Homo sapiens: one gene and its partners. The protein of the gene in region 5 purifies or fractionates together with the protein of the main gene of each other region. This does not show direct contact. Each region holds a gene or a part of one and is shown on either strand. Other genes may lie near its edges. The genes, in order: BCAT2, UBR7, SERPINB1, TIMP3 and CELA3B.

Region 1 (5,352 bases), on a different chromosome or scaffold from region 5:
AGGCCCCACCCCTCCTCCCTCAGACCCAGGAGTCCAGTTCCCCAGCCCCTCCTCCGCCAGACCCAGGAGTACAGGTGCTTATTCTCTGAAGGTATTCGATCAACTGGGCTCTGATTACCTGAAATACAAACCCATTTTGGCAGTGACTCCAATTCCCTTCAGCCCCTGGGGCTGAGGGGCAGCTACAGGGGCCTGGGGAGCCACTGCAGTCCTCACTGCATGAGGCTCAGGCGGGTCCTCCCAGAGGGGAGTAGGAAGAGCAGGTCTGGCTGTGTCCAGCAGGCTGGGCCCTCTCTGGTGACCTTTGACCTCACAAGGCCTCTTTCCCCAGCCCTGTGGGGAGGCGTTGGGGCGTGAGGTTGAGAGAGACAGAGTGGCCTGGCCTGGCCTGCCCTGTGAGCTGGGTGAGTTGGCACTGATTCTGGAAGATGGACGTGAATGGGCGTGGTCACTTGTCGCTAGGTGAGTTGCTGGGAGATGGGCCTGCAGCGTGGTCTTGCTGGTGTGAGGCTCCAGGGATTCCGGGGTGATCAGAGCGTGGGTCCCCAGATTGCCTTTGGGTGGCGACATCTAGACTGCTCAGCCTTGCAGCCATGCTTCTGCCCAGAGGGATAGGACACCCACAGTATGAGAGACACAAACACAGTGCGACAGCCAGCCTGTGGGCAGGAGAGCTGCCCTCAGAGCCAAGATGAAAAAAAGAGAGTAAGAGATGGAAGAGGAAGGATGAGAAAAAGAAACACAGAAAGGGGCGCACAAACAGAAAAAAAAAAAAACAAAAACAGAAATTGACGCCAAGAAACAAGAGATGCCAAAATAGATCTAATCATAGAAAGAGGCCACACGCAGTGGCTCGCGCCTGTAATCCCAGCACTGTGGGAGGCCGAGGCAGGAGGATAGCTTGAGGCCAGGTGTTCAAGACCAGCCTGGGCAACATAGGGAGACCCTGTCTCTACAGAAAATACAAGTTAGCTGGGTGTGGTGGCGGGCGCCTGTAGTCCCAGCAACTTGGGAAGCTGAGGCAGGAGAATTGCTTAAACCCAGGAGGCGGAGGTTGCAGTGAGCCGAGATGGTGCCACTGCACTCCAGCCTGGGCGACAGAGCAAGACTCTCTGTCTCAATTAAAAAGAAAAAAAACAAAGAAAGAAAGTAGGCAGCTGGCTCAGTAGCTCATGCCTGTAATCACAGCACTTTAGGAGACAGAGGTGGGAGGACTGCATGAGGCCAGGAGTTCAAGATCAGCCTGGGCAATATAGCAAGACCCTGTCTCTACAAACAATTTAAAAATTAGCCAGGTATGGTGGCACACACCTGTAATTCCAGTTACTCAGAAGGCTAAGGTGGGAGGATCACCTTGACCTACTGGTCAAGGCTGTGGTGAGCTACGATCACACTGCTACACTCCAGCATGAGTGATAGAGTGTCTCTCAAAAAAAAAAAAAAAAAAAAAAAAAAAAAAGACCAGCATGGTGGCTCATGCCTGTAATCTGAGGCAGGTGGATCGCTTGAGCCCATCTACTCGGGAGGCTGAGGCACCACAGTCACTTGAACCCATGAGGCGGAGGTTACAGTGAGCCGAGATCGTGCCACGGCACTCCAGCCTGAGCAACAGAGCAAGACTCGGTCAAAAAGAAAAGACGAGACAAAGAAATAAAGTACGTTTGGGGGTTCACAGGGCAGGTCTCTATAATGTGATAGAACCTCCATTATGTCCCATACAGCCCAGGAGTATCACCATCAAAGACCAGGAGTGTCACTGTCAAAGCCCAGCAGTGCCCTCCATACTCCAGGACTGTCCCCATATCACGGCCCCGGAGAGACCCCATCATACCGCAGTCTGCCCTTGTCACAGCCCACACATGACCCCATCACGTCTAGAACTGCCCCCTTTATAGCCCAGGACTCTCCCCCATCACAGACCAGGGCTGTTCTATGATGGCCCAAGATGCTCCACATCACAAGTCCAGATTGTGCCTGTAACTTATCAGAACTGGTCCCCAGCAGAGCCAAGTACTGTCCCAAACAGCTCAGGAATGTCCCCTATCCAAAGCCCAGCACTTTTCCCCATTATAACCAGCATTGTCTCTGCCAAATATCAGGGCTTATTTCCTATTCACCAGGTCTGAAATTAAAAAAAAAAAAAAAATCCCATTGTTGTCTTTTTCAATCCCCAGGACTATCCCTATGTTGCTGTCTAGGCCAGTACCTTCCAGACTGTCCCTACCATGGTCCAGCACTGTCCTCTCCACACCCCGGGACTGTCCCCATCACAGCTGAGGACTCAGCCCAATTATCTCCATTACAGGATATCTCTATCTTCATCAGAGCCTAGGAATGTCCCATCATGAGTTCAGGGCCATTCTATGACACCAGAACTGTGCCATGATGAGACGGTCCACATCAGTCCCAAGTGGACCTGTCAAAGCCCAGTACTGCCCCACCACAGTCCAGGAGTGTCACCACTAAAGCCCAGATTGCCCACATACCCCAGGTATCCCAGGACTATCCCTATCAGTCACTAAGAGCCGAAAAAAGTGAAATTCTGCCCTGACATTCATCAGCTAGGATAAGAGACTCAAATAAAGTCAGGTGTAAAGTTAACAGACAGTTCTCCCAAGGTTACACCGCAGCTGTGAAGGCTTGTAATGACCCCTTTCTTTGGCTGTTTCCTTCCTCACTGAGAAACCTTGTTCTCTGAAATCATAGACTCTGGGAAACGCTGCTGCTGTTTGACATCGCACAGTCAGAAGGGATCGTCTCAGCCAGCCTGCAGCATCTGTCACTTTGACCATGAGACGCTGCCTCGATTTCCAATCCAGGTGCAAAGCTTCAGATAGGAGTTTGGGAAGCACAGCAATCCCCATCTCTTATTTTTTTCAACTTTCATTCCAAGAAAATAGGACCTTGAGTCCAATTCCCAGAGCTGAGACTTGAGGTCCAACTCTGCCTTCACCTGCACCCGGCCCTGGAGGTCTGGGCCCCTTTATTCCAGCTCCCGCACAGGCTGATGCCCCACCGCACCCCAGGGCTCCGCTCCCCAAATCACAACCTCCCCACCCCCACGCCTCCCTCATTACAGGGTCCTCCACCATGTTTCCCTTTTTTTTTTTTTTTTTACCTCCCCGCCAATTACTTGCCCCACCTCATCCGCGTCTACCTGCTCCCCCTCACCCCATTAAAGCCTCGTGCTCCTTTCCAAAGGGCGCCATCCTCCTCCGCGCCCTGCAGCGGAACCCCAGGGCGGGAGGAGCGGCGCCGAGTCGGACCGGCTGCAGGCCAGTGGTCTTCCCGGAAGTGCGCCTCCCCCGGTTATTTCCCAGACCCCGGCGCGGGGCTGCGAACCCACCTGCCCCAGAGCGGCTGCGGCCATGATCCGTGCGGCGCGTAACTGTGCCCGCCCGGGGCGCGGCTCCGAAGAGAGACGTTCCGGCCACGCCCCGCTCACGCCTCCTTCTGGGGGAAGGCGGCCGACCAGCGCCCCAGGCCGTCCCAGCTCCAGGGCGTCGGCAGGGAGCCGGACACTGCTGCGGGGCGCAGGCGCTGGTGGGAGGGCAGGACTTGAAATACGGTCCCTGCCAGGCGAAGTGGCTCAGGTCTGTAATCTTAGCACTTTGGGAGGCCGAAGCGGGCGGATTACCTGAGGTCAGGAGTTAGAGACCAGCCTGGTCCAACATGATGAAACCCCGTCTCTACTAAAAATACAAAAAATTAGCCGGGCGTGGTGGCGGGCGCCTGTAATCTTAGCTACTCGGAAAGCTGAGGCAGGAGAATTGCTTGAATCGGGGAGGCAGAGGTTGCAGTGAGCCGAGATGATGCCACTGCACTCCAGCCTGGGCGACAGAGTGAGACTCCGTCTCAAAAAAAAAAAAAAAAAAAAGTCCTGGCTTGGTGGCTCACACCTGTAATCCCAGCACTTTGGGGGCCAAGGCGGGTGGATCACCTGAGGCCAGGAGTTCAAGACCAGCCTGGCCGACATGGGGAAACCCCGTCTCTACTAAAAATACAAAAATTAAGGCCAGGCACGGTGGCTTACGCCTGTAATCCCAGCACTTTGGGAGGCCGAGGTGGGCGGATCACAAGGTCAGGAGTTCAAGACCCGCCTGACCAACATGGTGAAACCCCGTCTCTACTAAAGATACAAAAATTAGCCGGGTGTGGTGGTGTGCGCCTGTAATCCCAGCTACTAGGGAGGCTGAGGCAGGAGAATCATTTGAACCCTGGAGGCGGACGTTGCGGTGAGCCGAGATCGCGCCACTGCATTTCCAGCCTGGGTGACAGGGTGAGACTCCGTCTCAAAATAAATAAATAAATAAAAATAAATACATAAAAATACAAAAATTAGTCGAGCGTGGTGCCGGGGGCCTGTAATCCCAGCTATTCGGGAGGCTGAGGCAGGAGAATCGCTTGAACCCGGGAGGCGGAGGTTGCAGTGAGCCGACATTGCACCACAGCACTCCAGCCTGGGCGACAGAGTGAGACTCCGTCTCAAATTAAAAAAAAAAAAAAAAAATCGTATCCCTCGGCCATCGTGTCTCGGCAATCCTACCCTGGGACACTCTGTCTCCAAATTCTACCCCCACAGTGCCCCCAAGTCCTGTCCCCGGGTCACTATCCTGCCACCCCTAACAGCCACAGGCCCAAACAGCCAAACCGCGGGACCCTTCCCTCACAGGGCGTCGCCCTGTTTTTCTGCGCTCCGCCCCAGTCCTCCTGCCCCACCCGCCAGCCCCGGGCTGTAGGGTCGGGGCCCACTGACAGCTCCCGCCCCCGCCGCGGCCAATCAGCGGTTGGTGCACACGCCCCCCCGGCCACAGCCAATCCGCAGCAGCCCTGCAGCTCCACCCCTCACCTGGGGGACGCCAGCGCACCCGGGCCCTGCCCCCCCCCTGGGTCCAGCTGGGGAGTCTGCGTCCCCCAGTGCCCTGCGGACCAAAACCCAGGAGTTTCAGCCCCTCCTCCCTCTGATCCAGATGTCTCAACCCCCTACTTTCTCTTCCCTTTGGACTTTTCTTGCCAGCCACCTTCCTATTCTACAGGCAGTGAGAGGAAAACTCCTTTTCCCTGAGGGCCAAGAGTAAGAGGGCCTTCTGCGTCTCCCCCTCCATTACCTCCTAATTAGCGCTTAATTTACTCTCCCCTGCGGGCCTTTAGTTAGCGCGCTGGTGAAGCCAAACCGCTCTACCCTTCCCAGGAGCCCCTGGCGACAGCGACAGGGCTAGCAACATCAGGCACCTGCTTGCTGCAAGGCCTGGGGTTGGGGGGCGGGGGGAGCTGCAGTCCTTCAGGGTCGAGGCAACTTGTGGGTCTGGGGTGCAAGGGCTAAGTGGGGCAGAAGGACTCGTCTAAAGGATG
Region 2 (4,686 bases), on a different chromosome or scaffold from region 5:
TGTATTTTTAGTAGAGACGGTGTTTCACCGAGTTAGCCAGGATGGTCTCGATCTCCTGACCTCGTGATCCGCCCGCCTCAGCCTCCCAAAGTGCTGGGATTACAGGCGTGAGCCACCTCGCCCAGCACTAATGAAATTTAATGTAATTATTTTATATAATTGGAGAGAGTTGTTTCTAGAGCCTTTAAAAACATAATATGGTACAAACTCAAACCATTTATCTTTCCCTGCCATCATTTTACTTGTGTGTTTGTATGTGATATAAATATTTGCTTTTGTACATATTAATTTCCCGAATTGTGAAGTCTTACTATGTGCTTGAATGCTTGAAGAAATTTTAAATTGGATTTTGTAAAAAGAAAAATAAAATTGTTATTTCCTCCTTTTTTCAGAAATTTTCGTTGTGATTGTGGAAACAGCAAGTTTAAAAATTTGGAATGCAAATTACTTCCTGTAAGTAAGCACTGTAACTATAAATGCATTTAGAGCAGCTGAGGTTAATATTTGCCAGAGTGGGTAAAAAAACAAATACCTGTATTTTCCAAAAAAAGAAGTTCTTATGCTTATTCTTTGCAGATGGCCATTTCATTTTTTACTTTGTTAGAAAAACTATATAAACTGTTGAGAGCCTACAAGATAGATGGTAATTAATATGAAAGGTTTGGGGGAGAGATGTACTTGAAAGTAATTCAGGTTTAATTATATTGGTTGTACTTATTCTCTGAGGCTTTTAAATCAGCGGATATGACTTAAAAACAATAAATAGGGTCAAGAGATCGAGACCATCCTGGCCAACATGGTGAAACCCTGTCTCTACTAAAAATACAAAAATTAGCTGGGCATGGTGGCACCCAGTCATCTACTCGGTCAGCTACTTGGGAGGCTGAGGCAGGAGAATTGCTTGAACCCAGGAGGCGGAGGTTGCAGTGAGCCGAGATTGCGCCACTGCACTCCAGCTGGCAACAGAGCAAGACTCCATCTCAAAACAAACAAACAAAAACAATAAATAGGCCGGGCACGGTGGCTCACACCTGTAATCCTAGCACTTTGGGAGGCCGAGGCAGGTGGATCACTTGAGGTCAGGAGTTCAAAACCAGCTTGGCCATCATGGTGAAACCCCCCCGTACTAAAAATACAAAAAATTATCTGGGCATGGTGGTGCGTGCCTGTAATCCCAGCTACTTGGGAGGCTGAGGCAGGAGAATCGCTTGAACCCAGGAGGCGGAGGTTGCAGTTACCCGAGATTGTGCCACCGCACTCCAGCCTGGGCGACAGAGCGAGACTCCATCTCAAAAAAAAAAGAAAAAGAAAAACCAATAAATAAGGCTGGGCGTGGTGGCTCATACCTGTAATCCCAACACTTTGGGAGGCCTAGGTGGGAGAATGGCTTGAACCCAGACCAGCCTGGGCATCATAGTGAGACCCCATCTCTATCAAAAAGAAAAAAGAAGTACCTTGAAATTCCAGGCCAATATCAGTTCACATAGATTGATAATTAATATTTATGATTAACTTTTATCTCCATTTTATTGAATAGGTGTATTTAATTTCTCCTAATTACCACAAAAAAAAACAAAAAAAAATTATTTTTTCCCTGTGTCCTGAAAAAAGTATCCCTTTAGTGGTAGTGAGTTTTTTTTTTCCTACTTTGAAAATTAAAGATCAGCCTCTTGGGGGAAATAATGTGGAAATGTATTGAATGCATAAATTTTATAATGTGTGAAATTATAGTTAAAATTAGACCATATTATTATTGAAATCAATATTATATTTCAGGACAAAGCAAAGGTAAATTCTGGCAATAAGTACAATGACAACTTTTTTGGATTGTACTGCATTTGCAAGAGACCTTATCCTGATCCTGAAGACGAGGTAAGAGAATTGGAAGTTAAACCTGGGGGTGTGTCCCCTCTAGCCTTGATTCCTCAACTGCTTGTCATATCCGAGCCTCTGGCTCTTCAAGAGGCAGTGTGGGATGGTGAAAGGGCTCTAGATTTATCTTTTCTTATGAATCTGGGTTGGATCTATAATTGGTACACATCTCAACCATTCTTTTCATTTTTACATCATAAGAATGAAATATTGGAGAGGACTTTCCCAAAGCCAGAGCTTCTTCCCTTCCTCTCCTTCCCTGACTGCCTCCCCCAGTCCCCAAACACTTTCTAAGAAATGACCTTCAACTTCTTTTGTCTCTTTACGGAAAAAAATGGGGTATACAAACAGCATCCTCTTAAAAACGTCAATGAGAAGTATATGCAAAATTCAAAACGAGTTCTTCCTCACTTCTGCACCTCTTACCTCCCAGGCATAACCACTGTTAACACTTTTGGTGTGTATATTTTTAGTCCTTTTTCTGTGCACATAGAAGTGTTTGAGTGAATGTGTGTTTCAATGTGTAGTTTCCTTTCTATTAACAGAAGTGAAAATTCTGTACACTCACTTCTGCAGCTGGCTTTTCTCACCAGTATATCATAGACATTCTTTCATGTCAACAAAACACACTTACCCCCTTCTAACTGCTGCAGAGTATCCTATAATTTCATATGCCATAAGTTAGTCAACCTGATTGTTCTTCTACAGCAGAATGGCATTGTGTAATTTTTCAATATTATAAAGAAAGCTAGAGTGAACATCCTCATACAGTAATACAACTGAGTATACTCCAAGTATTTATGTAGAATGGATCGGTATAATTGACGGATCAAAGTGTATTTGTGGCATTTAAAATTGTGATTGGCTGGGCACTGTGGCTTATGCCTGTAGTCCTGGCTACGCGGGAGGCTGAGACACAAGAATCACTTGAACCCATGGGGCAGAGGTTGCAGTAAGCTGGGATTGCGGCACTGCACTCCAGCCTGGGTGACAGAGCGAGACCCTGTCTCAAAAAATAATAATCATAATAAATAATAAAATAAAATTGTGATCATATCTGCCAAAAAAGTTGTACCAGCAACAGTATATGATAGTGTTTTTTCCCCAACACTTTTGTCAACCTTGCATATTACCAGTTCTTGAAAATTTTGCCATTCTGATAAATGAAGAATAGTATCTTTTTTTTCATTTTTTTTTTCAGACGGAGTCTCGCTCTGTCACCCAGGCTGGAATGCAGTGGCGCGATCTCGGCTCACTGCAAGTTCCACCTCCCGGGTTCATGCCATTCTCCTGCCTCAGCCTCCTGAGTAGCTGGGACTACAGGTGCCCGCCACCACGCCCAGCTAATTTTTTGTAATTTTAGTAGAGTCAGGGTTTCACCGTGTTAGCCAGGATGGTCTCAATCTCCTGACCTCATGATCCGCCTGCCTCGGGCTCCCAAAGTGCTGGGATTACAGGCGTGAGCCACCGCGCCCAGCCAAAGAATAGTATCTTAAATTTTTTTTTCTTTCCCTGATGATAAGTGAGGTTATGCATCTTTTCATAAGTTCATTGGACATCCATAATAACCTTCTCTCTGAATTGTCCTTTCATATCCTCAGTCCATGTTTTGATTGGTTTGGGTTTTGTCTGGGTATTTACCGATTTGAAAGAGTACTTTTTGTCTTTAGAGATATTAGTCTTCTGCCTTCTTCCTTGCTTTCTAATTGCGTTGGAACTATAATTATTGAACCAAATTATATAGAGGGACAGATTGAAAGTCTCTTTGAGTTAACAAAAATAAAACCTTAAAACTGGATTTTTTTTTTCTTTTTTTTAAGACGGAGTTTCGCTCTGTCACCCAGGCTGGAGTACAGTAGTGCGATCTCAGCTCACTGCAACCTCTGCCTCCCAGGTCCAAGCGATTCTTCTGCCTCAGCCTCCTGAGTAGCTGGGATTACAGGCACTCGCCACCATGCCCGGCTAATTTGTGTATTTTTAGTAGAGACAGGATTTCAGCATGTTGGCCAGGCTAGTCTTAAACTTCTGACCTCAGGCGATCCACCCACCTTGGCCTTCCAAAGTGCTGGGATTATAGGCGTGAGCCACCACGCCCAGCCAAAACTGGATATTTTAAGGCATGTGGTAAAGTGTTACAGCTCCTCCTGTTCCACAATATGTGCTTTTTTATTCCCTTTAAGAAGCCTACGATAGGAAAAGGACAGAACAACATTGGGATGTTAATTAACAGTTATGAGAGCCTGGGAGTAAAAGAAAATCATCCCCAAAATAGTCTATGTCCTTTGGTATATTATTTTCCTAGGGCCAGCATTTAATTATTTAATTTATTCAAATTAGAGGAGTTATCTATCGAGGTTTTTCATAACATTTACTTTTCAGTGTACTTGGCAGGATGGTTCTTCTGCAGCAGAAAGGCATTGTCTAATTTTTCAATATTATAAAGAAGGCTGGAGTGAACATCCTTATACAGTAATACAACTGAATATTGTATTAAAGGATGGTGTGGTAAAAAGTCCCAGTTGTCACTGTCTGCACTGGTCCATTCACATTACTTGCCTGGGCCTGAGTTTTGTATAAAATGGGAATGCCCTCCTTGTCTACACAGTTTTGTGAGAATCAGATATTAAGTAATGGATGTGAAAGAGCCTTGAGATTGTTTGTAAAGTGCTTATCTCAATGTAAGCCTTTGGAACACCAGTTCATGTAGAACAAATATTTAGTATCTTATTTTACTGTGTGCCAGGTTATTTCCATGTTCCCGAATTCAATGTAATCCTTAACAAACTGCTTTTCTCTGTTAGATTCCAGATGAGA
Region 3 (4,686 bases), on a different chromosome or scaffold from region 5:
GTAAAAGTGGAGGCTCTTCTAACATACCTGCCGCAAATTACACTGCACCTGTTCCTTGGCAAGGTGCAGCCTGGGATTCAAGTTCAAGGGGCTGCGAAACTTCTATTACTCATCACTTTAGATATGAAAGCATTTTAAATGTTTTTTTTAAATCCATTAAAAAAAAAAAACCTCTGTTACTAATTGTTAGTTGCTTCTTGCAGGGTTATATCAGTTCCTAGCTTGAGGTTTTCCAGGGACTTTAAAACCTCAGCAAAGAATAGTTTTAAGGACTCCTCCCCCATTTCCATTAAAGCAGATGGAGCATAGGCACAGTGCAAACATTCCATATCTCGGTGAGTAATGTGGACTTCGTACCCTATGCAATTTTGTTCTTTGTGTCTTAATCATAAAGGAACCAGCCTAGGTCTCATAAAACCACAAAGGGCCTCTTGATTTGTAACTGATACATGGGGAATTAAACTTTTGCCAGAATGTTAAGTTTAAGGAAGTTATTTTAAAATAAGTGAGTTACTGATGTTAATAGGGTAATAAAATTTTAAAAGCTTCAGTCTGTACTATCTTTGTGGTTCTGAATAGAGGATGAATCCTATTTTTACTGCTTATTTCTGAGAACTTTCAGTAAAATTATATTTGATACAGAATATAAATATGAACATACCATTTATTATTTTCTTTGGAAAAGGCAGACTTATATATAAATATTTAGTATCTTAACCACCCACATTTGTGGAACTGCAAGTGTAACAAAGAGTGATGTAAAAGCAATGTGTAAAGTTGTAAACATTCTGTCTCACGAAGCCATAAATTTTGGATTTCCTATTGTTTGTTCTGCAATGACAAATTAATAAAGTATTGGGTTTGGGATCATCAATAATTAGTAATAAAAACACATTAATTTAATGTGATAGAAGGAAACACCAAGGAATCACTTTATAGTTTCAAAATAAATGGTTGTAGAAAGAAGATTTTCTTTATTTTAGACTTTCCATTTCAACACGGTTGAAGAGGTTCATTCAAGATTCCAGAGTCTGAATGCTGATATCAACAAACGTGGAGCGTCTTATATTCTGAAACTTGCTAATAGATTATATGGAGAGAAAACTTACAATTTCCTTCCTGTAAGTACTTTGCCCTTCACATTCTAAAACCCCACTAGACAGTGCAGATATTTTCCAGCACAATCAAGTCATGGAGGTCAGTTTTAATATTTGTAAACTTTCAGAAAAACAATACAGAAGGCAAACATGGCAAAAACAATATGGAAGGCAAACACGACAGAATGCAAACTTTAATTGACATGGTGATTTTGTGTTACAGTCTTTTTAGTGAAAAGATAGCTCTTGGAGGTTTTACTGAAGCAAGAGTACAATCAGTGTTTGTGAAATCTTAGTCAAAGTTCAGAAAAGAGTGGTAATTTCTATATAACAACAACAGTATAAGGGTTAGGCTTACCACTACTGGAATGCACAGTTAAAAGTGGCTAAGATCGTAAATTTAATGTTAAATGATTTTTACTACTATAAGAAAAACTATAAGAGTTAGAAATTTTGTGTTACATGGAATTGTAGCCTTTTAGGACAATTTCTGTTGCTTTTTGGGATTTTAGAAAACAATTTCTATATGTAGTAGGAGTTATATATATATTTCCTTTTCCTTTTTTTTAATAGGAGTTCTTGGTTTCGACTCAGAAAACATATGGTGCTGACCTGGCCAGTGTGGATTTTCAGCATGCCTCTGAAGATGCAAGGAAGACCATAAACCAGTGGGTCAAAGGACAGACAGAAGGTGAGAGCCTGGGCAGAATGGAATCATTATGCGCTGGTCATGTCATTCGTTTCCTCAGTCCGCCTTCCCTACCTGCAGTTATTCCCTCCCCAGCTCCCACAGTCCTGGCGCACATCGTGGTTACAGTCAGAGGACGCTGCCGGTGCGTGAAGTCTGCACTGCACGTTGCTGGACAGCTCTCACATGTTCGAAGTTCACCAGAGTGGAAACTTAAACATGATTTAACTCAAGCAGCTAAATCCTTTTTTCTCATCAGCTCCCCAAAACTTTTAAAGTTGCATTTCAAAGTTAAAACCAACATTGGCAGGCGCGGTGGCTCATGCCTGTAATCCCAGCACTTTGGGAGCCCAAGGCGGGCGGATCATTTGAGGTCAGGAGTTCAAGACCAGCTTGGCCAACATGATGAAACCCTGTCTCTACTAAAAATACAAAAAATTTAGCCAGGTGTGGTAGCACACACCTGTAATCCCAGCTACTCTGGAGGCTGAGGCAGGAGAATCTCTCGAACACAGGAGGTAAAGGTTACAGTGAGCCGAGATCATGCCACTGTACTCCAGCCTAGGCAACAGAGCGAGACTCCGTCGTAAAAAAAATAATAAAAATAATAAAAAATAAAAAATAAAGTTAAAACCAACACTGAATACAGCAAAAAAGGAATTAAAATTTTGAGGAGAATTCAGCCTGCCAAAAATTACCTAATACTCATATGGAAAGAAATGTCCTGGAATTTCATGGAAATACCTGAAATCAATATTCACAAACTACTGTGGTTGTAAATTTTTTGCCAACATCTTGTCCAGTAAAAAAGTTGTGGTAGGTGGGGACTGACTTGCTTTTAGGGTGCAATTTATTTCTTTGCTACATCTCTCTTCTTACATAGCCCTGTATTAGTCAACCCACTCCAGAAGACCTGTCTTCCATTATGGGAATTGTTCCCAGCCATACTTATGGTCACGAAGGTGACCTTTATTTCCATGGAGTATGTTCTGCTGGTTTTTTTGTTTGTTTGTTTGTTTTTTGTTTTTAAGAGACAGAGTCTTGCTCTGTCGCCCAGGCTTGAGTGCAGTGGTGCGATCGTGGCTCACTGCAGCCTTGACCTCCTGGGCTCAAGGAATCTTCTCATCTCCACCTCCCAAAGCACTGGGACTGCAGGTGTGCGCCACCATGCTTGGTCTTGTTCTGCCTTTTGGATATTGTTTAAACCTTTTTTTGTGAGAGTAGGCATCTACTCAGCGATTTGAAGAAGTGATTTACTGATGACTAAAGATATCTTCATTAAGAATTTTTTTTTTCTAAAAAAGAATGGTTGTTACAAAATAAGGCTCATTGTTTATCATACAGTCCAGAAAAGGAGAATTTTCCTGTCTTTTGTCTTTCGGCACATTTGACTTGTTTAAAATGTCAGGTCCTTGTGGGAAGTTTGTGTGTCATCCTGGTCTGTCTGCCCCACAGGTTGTTATACTTAAAGTAGAGACATGTTAGTGAGTAGGGCTTTCCTAAGTTAATATCTTGTTAAATGAAAATTAAGTAGAAATTATATATTTGAATTGCATTTCCGTGCTAATATATTGTCAGTTCAAATTTGGAATTCCGATTTGGATTTTTTTTACGCTAACTTGATTTTTTTTTAGGAAAAATTCCGGAACTGTTGGCTTCGGGCATGGTTGATAACATGACCAAACTTGTGCTAGTAAATGCCATCTATTTCAAGGGAAACTGGAAGGATAAATTCATGAAAGAAGCCACGACGAATGCACCATTCAGATTGAATAAGGTGAGGTGAGGTAACTGTACAGAGTCATGCATTGCTCTAAAAGAATGCAGAGAATAATTTCAGTGATTTTTTAAAACTGTTCAGAAAGACAGAAAAACTGTGAAAATGATGTATCAGAAGAAAAAATTTGCATATGGCTACATCGAGGACCTTAAGTGCCGTGTGCTGGAACTGCCTTACCAAGGCGAGGAGCTCAGCATGGTCATCCTGCTGCCGGATGACATTGAGGACGAGTCCACGGGCCTGAAGAAGGTATGGCTCCTGGGCTTCATGCTTTGTGGTTCCTCTTGCATGTGTGTGTCGCATGGTAGGTAGGTGCTTGTTAAGTGTTCACTGATGGTGCATTTTCCAGTAGTTTGTCATTCCTTTGTAAATGTAGCCCATCAACACTTACTACACTAAAGCCCAGAGTTAATTTTTTTTTAAATTTACTTATAGAGACAAGGTCTCACTATGTTGTTTAGGCTGGTCTTGACCTCCTGGCTTCCAGCAATCCTCCTGCCTCAGCCTTCTGAGTAGCTGGGACTATAGCTGTGAGCCACTGTGCCCGGCTAACGTTTCATTTTTCAAGAAAGATGGCCAGCTACTTTCAGTGGACACTTGTGATGGGGTCATTAAAGATCTATACTAAATATAATACTGGTTAGTGGCAGCTCATGGAAAGGCTCTTGAATTAGCTTTAGAGGAAATTACAGTAAGATGAGGATTGTTTTACTGAGGAAAAAGATTGAAAAGCCCCAAATAGTGTAGCATATATCTTCATCACGTACTATAAAATTCTATTATTACACTGTTTGTTCTCATCACAATTCATATAGATAGTGAATTAAATTTTCAATGGGTACAAGACAGAAAAAGCCTCATGTGACATGTTAGGCCTATTTACTAGTATGATCTTTGCATGAGGTTTCCATTATATGTAGGGACTCTAGCCTGCTCTGTGCTCTCCGTCTCCTCCCTATCCACCTATTCATCATCCTTGCTATCAGGAAGGGGGTCTAATGTTAATCATTTGCATGTACAGACTTTTAATACATTGTATAACAATCAATGTGGCCTTTCTTTTGGTTGTATTTTTGCATTAGTTTTTTTTCTGATTGTAAAGTGAAAATCTCTAGCCTCTT
Region 4 (4,686 bases), on a different chromosome or scaffold from region 5:
GTTTTACAGATAAGAGACCAAACCCAGGGAGGTCAGTATCACCAAGGGGACTCCAGAGTCAGATGATGAACTAGGACTAGACCTTAGGCCTCCTAACTCCAGCCAGTGCTCCTCCTCCATGCCACACTGCACCTCCTAGCCCTGGCAGTGGATAGGGGAGCGGTTGCTGACTCTTCAGCCAAGTTCATTGTCACCATTCCATTTCTAGGGCCCTCTCTTTGGCTACCCTAGTGACTTCTACCTCTGCTTATCAATGGGAGCTGTCTAAAGAGGGAAGGGCAGCACCAGATCCTTGACAAGTGTTGGGCTTGCCCTCAGAAGACATGGGTTCCAATCCCATTCCATGTATTGGCTATATGGCTAAGCCACAGAACCCCGCCATTCTCAATACTGACATCCACTAACTAGGAACTATGACCGACCCCCCAATCACCATCCTGCTTTCCTCGTTGCGAAGTTGTCATCAAATGAGATCAAATGGACTTAAGACTCTAAAATGTGAAGAGTTGTGAAAATAGAGTAGGAACTTTGTTGTTTCTTTCTCTGCCCTGTGGGAAGCACTGTGACAAAATGGAACACATTAGATTTGGAGGCGGGGGGATCAAACCACGATTTTGAATTGAAACTCAGCTCTCTCTATATGACCCTGGAAAACATCACATCACACCACAGAGCGCCATTTTCCTCACCGAAAGTGAAGTGAGAATATCAGCTCTGCTCTATAACAACACTACTACTAAAAGCTCATGCTTATTCTTATTGAGCTATTCTGTGCCAAGAATCAGTCTCTTGTATAGACTAAGGGCTACAACTTTTTAGACTTGGGAAGATTCTACCCATTTTGCGACCTCTCCACCTGAGTCTTTGGCTCCCCACTTTTGGGGCCCCCCTCAGTCTGCTTATCTTTGATTTTCTTCCTCTCCAGACATGCCTTCCCTGCTGCCCCCAAATTTTATTACCGTATAGTCAGTTCTGGGATCCTAACATAACCAAGCCTTACCTCCTAACCCAGTGCCCTTTCAACTGTCTCAGTGGTTCCCAGCCTTTTCAACACTAAGGAATATTTAGTGCTAAACATTCCATGAAGTATTTCACTTAATTGCCAATGAAGTTACCACGTGGTACATAATATATTTCCCCCCATTTTAGAGATGAGGAAACTGAGGCAAAGAACCTGCCCAAGCTTGGGAGTAGCAGAGCTCACTAGAGCTATCATGTTTCCAAATCGAAAAGGCAGGGAGCTTATTCATGATGATAAAGTCTAAGTCAAAAGGGAGCCCTTCCTAAATACATGAGATGCAAACACCTTAGTCAAACACCTCAAGTCACGAAACCAAGTCTTCATGAAATCTGACCCTGGTTGCGAAACTCACCATCCCCACATCCTAATCCAGGCATTGCAGGAGCTCTGAAGTTTCTGAATGAAACAGCTCTTCTCTGCAGGCAGCCAGGCGGCCCTGTGCCTGACACCCTCATGGGCAGAGGCAGAGGGGATAATTACCATGTAGTATTTAAGATCTCTAGTTCCGGAATGGCTCTTGGAGGCTTGGTCAGCTCAGGACTTCCCCTCTCCACTCCCCAGTACCCACCCCCCGCCCAATCATCTAGGGCTCTGTTTTTCCACTAACTGAACTTTACCTTGGGCTCTCTGAGGCCAGATCGTACAGCTTTCCTTCCCTTCCCCACCCCCACAAAAAGCCAGGTGGCTGCAGGCTTGGAAACACTTATAGTTTCTTGTCTCCAAGCCGTGAATGCCACCATTAGGTGATCGGATTTACATGAACATAAATCAGACTTGAGTGTTGGGTAGTGTGGACTGTCCCTTCTGTGACAGCAAAGCCATCCTAGCCACACAGATGGCCTCTAAATGGGTCAGGAAAGGTTCTCTGGGGCCCCTCTGAAGCTACAAACACTAATTTTTTAACAGCTGAACAAAAAGACCTCTTAGTTCCACTGCAGCCCACATAGACACCTGTGGGCCTCCTGTCAAACAGTATTTAGTAAGTCCCTTTAGCTAGAATCAATACTTTGTGTACCCCTGGATGCCAGACATGAACATAGGAAAATATCTGAACCCATGTCACCTCCTCTGAAAGGATAGGGACCTCAACTAGGACACATCAGTTACCTGCTGTCTATCCCAGGCATGGTGGCAGCACTGTGGGTAACAGGGAGAAGTGACAATGGCAGTAAATGCATGGGACCTGCCCACAGGGAGAAGAGATGCTAAGCTGGCATGAAACTAAAGATTCTCAGGAGGGGCAAAGGACAGCGATATACCAAAGAAGCCAGGAGCTATTTTAGGCATATCAGTAAGCCAACCCAAATCCGACAATGCAATCACCCAGGAACCCATGAGAAAACTTCCCAGGCTTATGAAAACACCAACCGTCCTTGCTTTCGGCTATAATTAATTAGTATATTAGCTGATTGTGTCAGAATAATGACTGGCTAGTATCAGCAGTTCTAGTTATATTTTAATTTGTTTTTTAATGGAAAGTTAATCAACACTCAACACATGAAATTGTGTCGGATAACTGTTCCAAACACAGAACTTATTGGAGGGAAAAATTAATTTTAAAAAATTCCATAGTGTTGAAAAGTCTGGGAACCACTGAGAGAGTTGAAAGGGCACTGGGTTAGGAGGTAAGGCTTGGTTATGTTAGGATCCCAGAACTGACTATACAGTAATAAAATTTGGGGGCAGCAGGGAAGGCATGTCTGGAGAGGAAGAAAACCAAAGATAAGCAGACTGACGGGGACCCCAACAGTGGGGAGCCAAAGACTCATGTGGAGAGGTCGCAAAATGGGTAGAATCTTCCCAAGTCTAAAAAGTTGTAGCCCTTGGTCTATATGAGAGACTGATTGGAAACACAGGTTTTGGAGATAGGCTAAGCAAGTATAGGTTGCAAGTGGTGTGAGCTTGGGCAAGCCATTTGGCTTCCCTAGCCTGAGACAGCTCATCAGGCAGCTGGGATGACTGATAGGCAAGTAAGGAGCTTGGTACAGTGCCTGGCACATAGTAAGGGCACCAAACTTACTATGAAAATTACAGTATTATGTTTGTGATCTCCTGCAGGGTTGGCATTTAGAAATCTCCACTTTCTTCTCTGGGAGGGTGCTAGGGTATCATGTCCACCAGAAGACAGGACTAGACTTATCAAGTAATGCAGAGAGCATAGTGGGTGCTTACCCTCTAAAGTGGGTTAGGTTTATCCCTCTGGGTGGCACGCAGCCCTAAGTTCTTTCTCCCAGCGCAGGAATGATCCCCTCTGGGAGTTTCCCATGCAGCTTTGGAGAATTTGGGTTTTACTAGAGATGGTGTTTTTCAGCATGCTTAAAATATGGGCAAGGTTTATGACTGTTCGTCTGTACCAATGCCAAGGAGTGATCAGGGAAAGGAACCAAAGGAGACCTAGAGAATGAGAAGTTAATGAGGACTGTTCAAAACCGAGGGGGTGTCATGGGCCAAGAGCCAGAGAGACAGAGTATGAACAGCTGGAGCAGGACAGACCAGTGATGAGACTATGAGGATGAGGTAGGCAGGGTCCACACTGGCCCTTGTAAAAGCCATTTGATGATACTTTATCCTAAGAGTCCACTGAAGAGCTTTCATCAGAACAGGAATTCTTTCCTAAACCAGGCCTTCTAGCTCCCATAATAATGAGACCCCAGCGTCCTTCTTGGCTGGGGTCCACCCAGCCTCCCTCTCGGCAGTCCATCCTCCTCCTTGTGACCATCCCACTGCTCTCACCCAAGTGCCATCCATAGGCAACAAGAAGGGAGACAGATGAGTGAGTGCCCTTGCTGCCACCATGAGCCTGGCCAGCGGACAGCTTTGAGTCAGAAAGCAAAACCCTGTGTATGTGTGTTCAAAACACAGCCACATATACCTTTGAACCTGAGTCCATGTAAGTCCTCAAAGTCAAACAACTTGGTGTAATAAATGGTCCACTGCTTATTCTGAAAGCAAAATAAATACATAAAGCTATCTTCAACCGAATTACTCCAGCATGCAACAAGTCAAGGGTCACAGCTTTCCTGGCATTGCAGCCTTCCTCTCCCTATGAAAATACTCCCATTAACTTGATCTTCGTGGCCCTAATTTTGCTCCCTTTCAAAGAGACAAAAAGAAGGAAAAAAAACACTCAGTAAGTCAATAAAAATTATAAATTGTTTTTCTATTTGAGAGAAGCATGGGAGTCTCTTAAGCACAGGGCTCTAACATTCCTCCATCCCCTCATGTTGCATATATGAAAAGAACTGTGTTAACACAGCCACTGTGGAGGCCAAATTGGCAGGAACTATTAAAATTGAAAATGCATATTATATAATTATAATAATATAAGAGTATGTAGTAGTATATATAATATGATATGGTATAATGTGACCTATAGTATAGTTGTTAAATATATTTTAGAGCCAGGGTGAAGGGGCTTAAATACAGGCTGTATTCCTTGCTAGCAGTATAACCTTAAACGAGTTACCTCATTTTTCTAAGCCTCAGTTTCCTCAGCTGTAAAATGGAGATGACAATAGCACACCTCCCTCATAAAACTGAGAGAATTAAATGAGTTAATGTAAGTTAATGACTTAGAATAATGCCTGGCACATAGTAATCACTCTATACTTATTAGCTGTTTAAAATTATAACCTCATGAAATACATAAAAGAAATATATATATT
Region 5 (4,019 bases):
TGAGAGGTGACAGGTGAGAAACATCGGATCCTGGGGAGGGCCTGAAAGGATCCTAGAAGCTCAGTGGGGAAGGGCCCTTGGGGACATTCCAGAAAGGCTTGGGGATGTTTTCTGATACAGTGTGACCCCAGGAACTTGATGGCTTCTGGGTGGTGCTTGGAACTACAGCTGAACTTCCTTATTTCAACAAGTATTTATAAAGTATCTCCTCTGGTCTTGTCCTCTCTTGTCAGGGAGGATAGAGAGACATGCCAGACAAGAGGCTGCCTGGTGGGGGACAGGTGATTACATGAATGAGAACGATGCAGTCTGATGAGAGCCGAGAGAGGGGAGTCCAGGCCCCAGACTTCATCTGGGGATGGGTGATCAGAGAGGACTAATAACACTCCTGATAACAGTAATAGCTAAACAAAAAAAAAAAAGAAAAAAAAAAAGAGTAATAGCTGGGCATGGAGTAGTCATGCCAGTAATCCCAGCACTTTGGGAAGCAGAGGCAGGTGGATCACAAGGTCAGGAGTTCAAGACCAGCCTGGCCAAGATGGTGAAACCCTGTCTCTACTAAAAATACAAAAATTAGCCGGGCATGGTGGTGGGTGCCTGTAATCCCAGCTGCTCGGGAGGCTGAGGCAGAGAACTGCTTGAACCTGGGAGACGGAGGTTGCAGTTAGTCGAGATCATACCACTGCACTGCAGCCTAGGTGACAGAGCGAGACTCCGTCTCAAAAAAAAAAAAAAAAAGAGTAATAGCTAGCTGGGTGCAGTGATGCCCACCTGTAGTCCCAGCTACTTGGGAGGCTGAGGCAGGAGGATCGGTTGAGCCCTGGAGTTCTGGGCCATAGTGCGCTATACCCATCTGGTTCTGCACCAAGTTTGGCATCCATGTGGTGACCTCCTGGGAGTGGGGACCACCAGGTGGCCTAAGGAGGGGTGAACTGTCCCAGGTCAGAAACAGAGCAGGTCAAAACTCACATGCTGAAAAGTAGTAGGATCACACCTGTGAATAGCCACTGTACTCCAGCCTGGGCAACACAGCAAGAGCCTCTCTCTTAAAAAAATGAAAATAAACTAAATAAAATAAAACAGTAGTGCTTGCTTTGGCAGCACATGTACTAAAATTGGAATGATATAGAGATTAGCACGGCCCCTGCGCAAGGATGACATGCAAAGTCATGAAGGCTTCCATTAAAAAAACATTTCTGGCCAAGTACAGTGGTTCATGCATGTAATCCCAGCACTCTGGGAGGCCGAGGCGTATGGATCACCTGAGGTCAGGAGTTCAAGACCAGCCTGGCCGACATGGTGAAACCCCATCTCTACTAAGAATACAAAAAATTAGCCGGGCGTATTGGTGCATGCCTGTGGTCCCAGCTACTCAGGAGGCTGAGGCAGGAGAACTGCTTGAATCTGGGAGGCGGAGGTTGCAGTGCGCCGAGATTACGCCACTGCACTCCAGCCTGGGTGACAGAGCAAGACTCCATCTCAAAAACAAAAACAAACAAACAAACAAAAAAACAGTGATGATTTATAGACCATTTAATCCCTTGGTTCCCTGACCCATGTTAAAAAAATATATATATAAGGCCAGGCACGGTGGCTCATGCCTGTAATCCCAGCAATTTGGTAGGCCGAGGCAGGCAGATCATAAGGTCAGGAGTTCGAGACCAGCCTGGCCAATATGGTGAAATCCTGTCTCTACAAAAATATAAAAAAATTGGCTGGGCGTGGTGCTGCATGGCTGTAATCTCAGCTACTTGGGAGGCTGAGGTAGAAGAATTGCTTGAACTCGGGAGGCAGAAGTTGCAGTGAGCCAAGATTGCACCACTGCCCTCCAGCCTGGGCGACAGAGCAAGACTCCATCTTAAAAAAAAAAAAAAAAAAAAGCCGGGCATGGTGGCTCATGCCTGTAATCCCACCACTTTGGGAGGCTGAGGTGGGCAGATCACAAGGTCAGGAGATTGAGACCATCCTGGCTAACAAGGTGAAACCCTGTCTCTACTAAAAATACAAAAATTAGCCAGGCATGGTGGCGTACGCCTGTAGTCCCAGCTACTTGGGAGGCTGAGGCAGGAGAATGGCATGAACCCAAGAGGTGGAGGTTGCGGTGAGCTGAGATTGTGCCACTGCACTCCAGCCTGGGCAACAGAGTGAGACTCTGTCTCAAAAAGAAAAAAAACTCCAAAAATATATATTTTGTTTATATACATACATACATACATACATATATATACACACACAGACGTATATATATACACACACACACATATATATGTATATATATCTATGCACACATCCCATCTAAATTCATGCTGGCCATTGTAGAGAGAACCTTAGTTAACAATTTAATCAAGAACCCCCCCATGAGGTAAGTTCTATCATTATCCCTACTACATAGAGGAGGAAACTGAGGCTCAGAGAGGTCAATTCCTCTCCCAGGGTCACACAGCAGGGCTGGAAGTTGAACCCAGTTTCATCTGACTCCAGAACCTGTGCTCCTAAATTGACTATTCTGTCTGCCCCCCCAACTTTTCCAGACCATAGCAAGCCACTAGAACCAAGGCCCAGCTGGCAGTGCTGATCGATCCCACATCCTGAATAAAGAATAAAGATCTCTCAGAAAATTCCAAGTTGAATCTTTCTTTCTTTGTTGACTCACCTCTTCCCCTCTGGCCTGTTCCTAAAATCTTAGATCTCATATGCAGAGACAGGACCAGGTCCAACCCTTTCATACGAAGATGAGGGAAAAATGATGCTGGGAGAGAAGGGAGTTGCTGTGCGGTGACCTGACCATCCTGGTTTGCCTGGAACTTCAGGAGTGAAGACACTGGACATTTAATGCTAAAACTGGGAAGGTACCAGGAAAAATGGGACAAGTTGGTCGCCTTAGTATATAGTCGCACATAAGTCAGTAGCTTTTCAATGCAGGCATATAAACATGGTAAAAATCTGCAGATAAACAGACCCTGCCAGCCCCTCAGCAGGCTCATGGTAGAGTGGGAAGGACAATGTGTGATCTGCTTCCACTGATGGGCTGGGGGCTTTGGTTATTCATTCATTCAACAAACACTTATTCCTTGTTTTAAAGGAGGGCTCAGAGGGGTAAGGAGACATGGTTCCTGCCCTGAAGTGACTCATTATTTAAAGATAGCTCTCTTAGTCTGTGTTCATACTGCTATAAAGAACTGCCCGAGACTGGGTAGTTTATAAAGGAAAGAAGTGTAATTGACTCACAGTTCAGCATGGCTGGGGAGGCCTCAGGAAACTTAAAATCATGGTGGAAGATGAAGGGGAAGCAAGGGACCTTCTTTACAAGGTGGCAGGAAGGAAAATTGCCTAGCAAAGGGGGAAGAGCCCCTTATAAAACCATCAGATCTGGCGAGAACTCACTCACTATCATGAGAACAGCATGGGGGAACCGCCCTATGATTCAATTACCTTCTCCCTTGACACATGGCGATTATGGGGATTACAATTCAAGGTGAGATTTGGGTGGGGACACAAAGCCTAACCATGTCATGAGCATATCACGGTCATTCATTAAACATGTATTAGGTACCTGCCTTGTGGCAAGTTCAGGGCTGGAAAAACAGAGACAAGTCAGGCAACCCTAGGAAGAGCCCTTACTGAAGGGGGGAGAAGACACACACACAGGTACACAGGTATACACACACAGGTACACACAATGCTGCGCACGAGCCCAGAGCCAGCAAACAGTTGAGTTTTGAAAGGAAGAACGCTGGCCAGGTGCAGTAGCTCATGCTTGTAATCCTAGCACTTTGGGAGGCTGAGGCAGGTAGATCAACTGAGGTCACGAGTTCGAAACTCCTTCTTAAAAAAAAAAAAGAATGCTGTTACACAGACAAAAGCAACATAAAACAAGGGAGTCTGGCTGGGCCTGGTGGTTCATACTTGTAATCCCAGCACTTTGGGAGGCCAGGGTGGGTGGATCACTTGAGCCCACGAGTTTGAGACCAGCCTGGGAAACATGGTAAAACCCCATCTCTACAAAAAACATAAAAATT

What was found.
Region 1: the proteins of CELA3B (region 5) and BCAT2 purify together in Homo sapiens (affinity purification with mass spectrometry; one large-scale study listed by BioGRID and IntAct). This does not show direct contact.
Region 2: the proteins of CELA3B (region 5) and UBR7 purify together in Homo sapiens (affinity purification with mass spectrometry; one large-scale study listed by BioGRID and IntAct). This does not show direct contact.
Region 3: the proteins of CELA3B (region 5) and SERPINB1 purify together in Homo sapiens (affinity purification with mass spectrometry; one large-scale study listed by BioGRID and IntAct). This does not show direct contact.
Region 4: the proteins of CELA3B (region 5) and TIMP3 purify together in Homo sapiens (affinity purification with mass spectrometry; one large-scale study listed by BioGRID and IntAct). This does not show direct contact.

What each region holds. Positions count from the first base shown.
Region 1 is NC_000019.10:48,807,638-48,812,989, forward strand, and holds the start of BCAT2 (branched-chain-amino-acid aminotransferase, mitochondrial isoform a precursor), read right to left. Parts: upstream 3,393-5,352; 5' UTR 3,371-3,392; coding exon 3,347-3,370; intron 3,201-3,346; exon of another isoform or gene 2,707-3,200; intron 600-2,706; exon of another isoform or gene 1-599. UniProt on the Homo sapiens protein: Catalyzes the first reaction in the catabolism of the essential branched chain amino acids leucine, isoleucine, and valine. May also function as a transporter of branched chain alpha-keto acids.
Region 2 is NC_000014.9:93,210,256-93,214,941, forward strand, and holds part of UBR7 (putative E3 ubiquitin-protein ligase UBR7), read left to right. Parts: intron 1-392; coding exon 393-453; intron 454-1,776; coding exon 1,777-1,872; intron 1,873-4,673; coding exon 4,674-4,686. UniProt on the Homo sapiens protein: E3 ubiquitin-protein ligase which is a component of the N-end rule pathway. Recognizes and binds to proteins bearing specific N-terminal residues that are destabilizing according to the N-end rule, leading to their ubiquitination and subsequent degradation.
Region 3 is NC_000006.12:2,834,984-2,839,669, reverse strand, and holds part of SERPINB1 (leukocyte elastase inhibitor), read left to right. Parts: intron 1-203; exon of another isoform or gene 204-335; intron 336-983; coding exon 984-1,121; intron 1,122-1,670; coding exon 1,671-1,788; intron 1,789-3,419; coding exon 3,420-3,562; intron 3,563-3,646; coding exon 3,647-3,814; intron 3,815-4,686.
Region 4 is NC_000022.11:32,807,433-32,812,118, reverse strand, and holds part of TIMP3 (metalloproteinase inhibitor 3 precursor), read right to left. Parts: intron 804-4,686; exon of another isoform or gene 1-803.
Region 5 is NC_000001.11:21,986,731-21,990,749, forward strand, and holds the end of CELA3B (chymotrypsin-like elastase family member 3B preproprotein), read left to right. Parts: intron 1-2,531; coding exon 2,532-2,549; 3' UTR 2,550-2,624; downstream 2,625-4,019. UniProt on the Homo sapiens protein: Efficient protease with alanine specificity but only little elastolytic activity.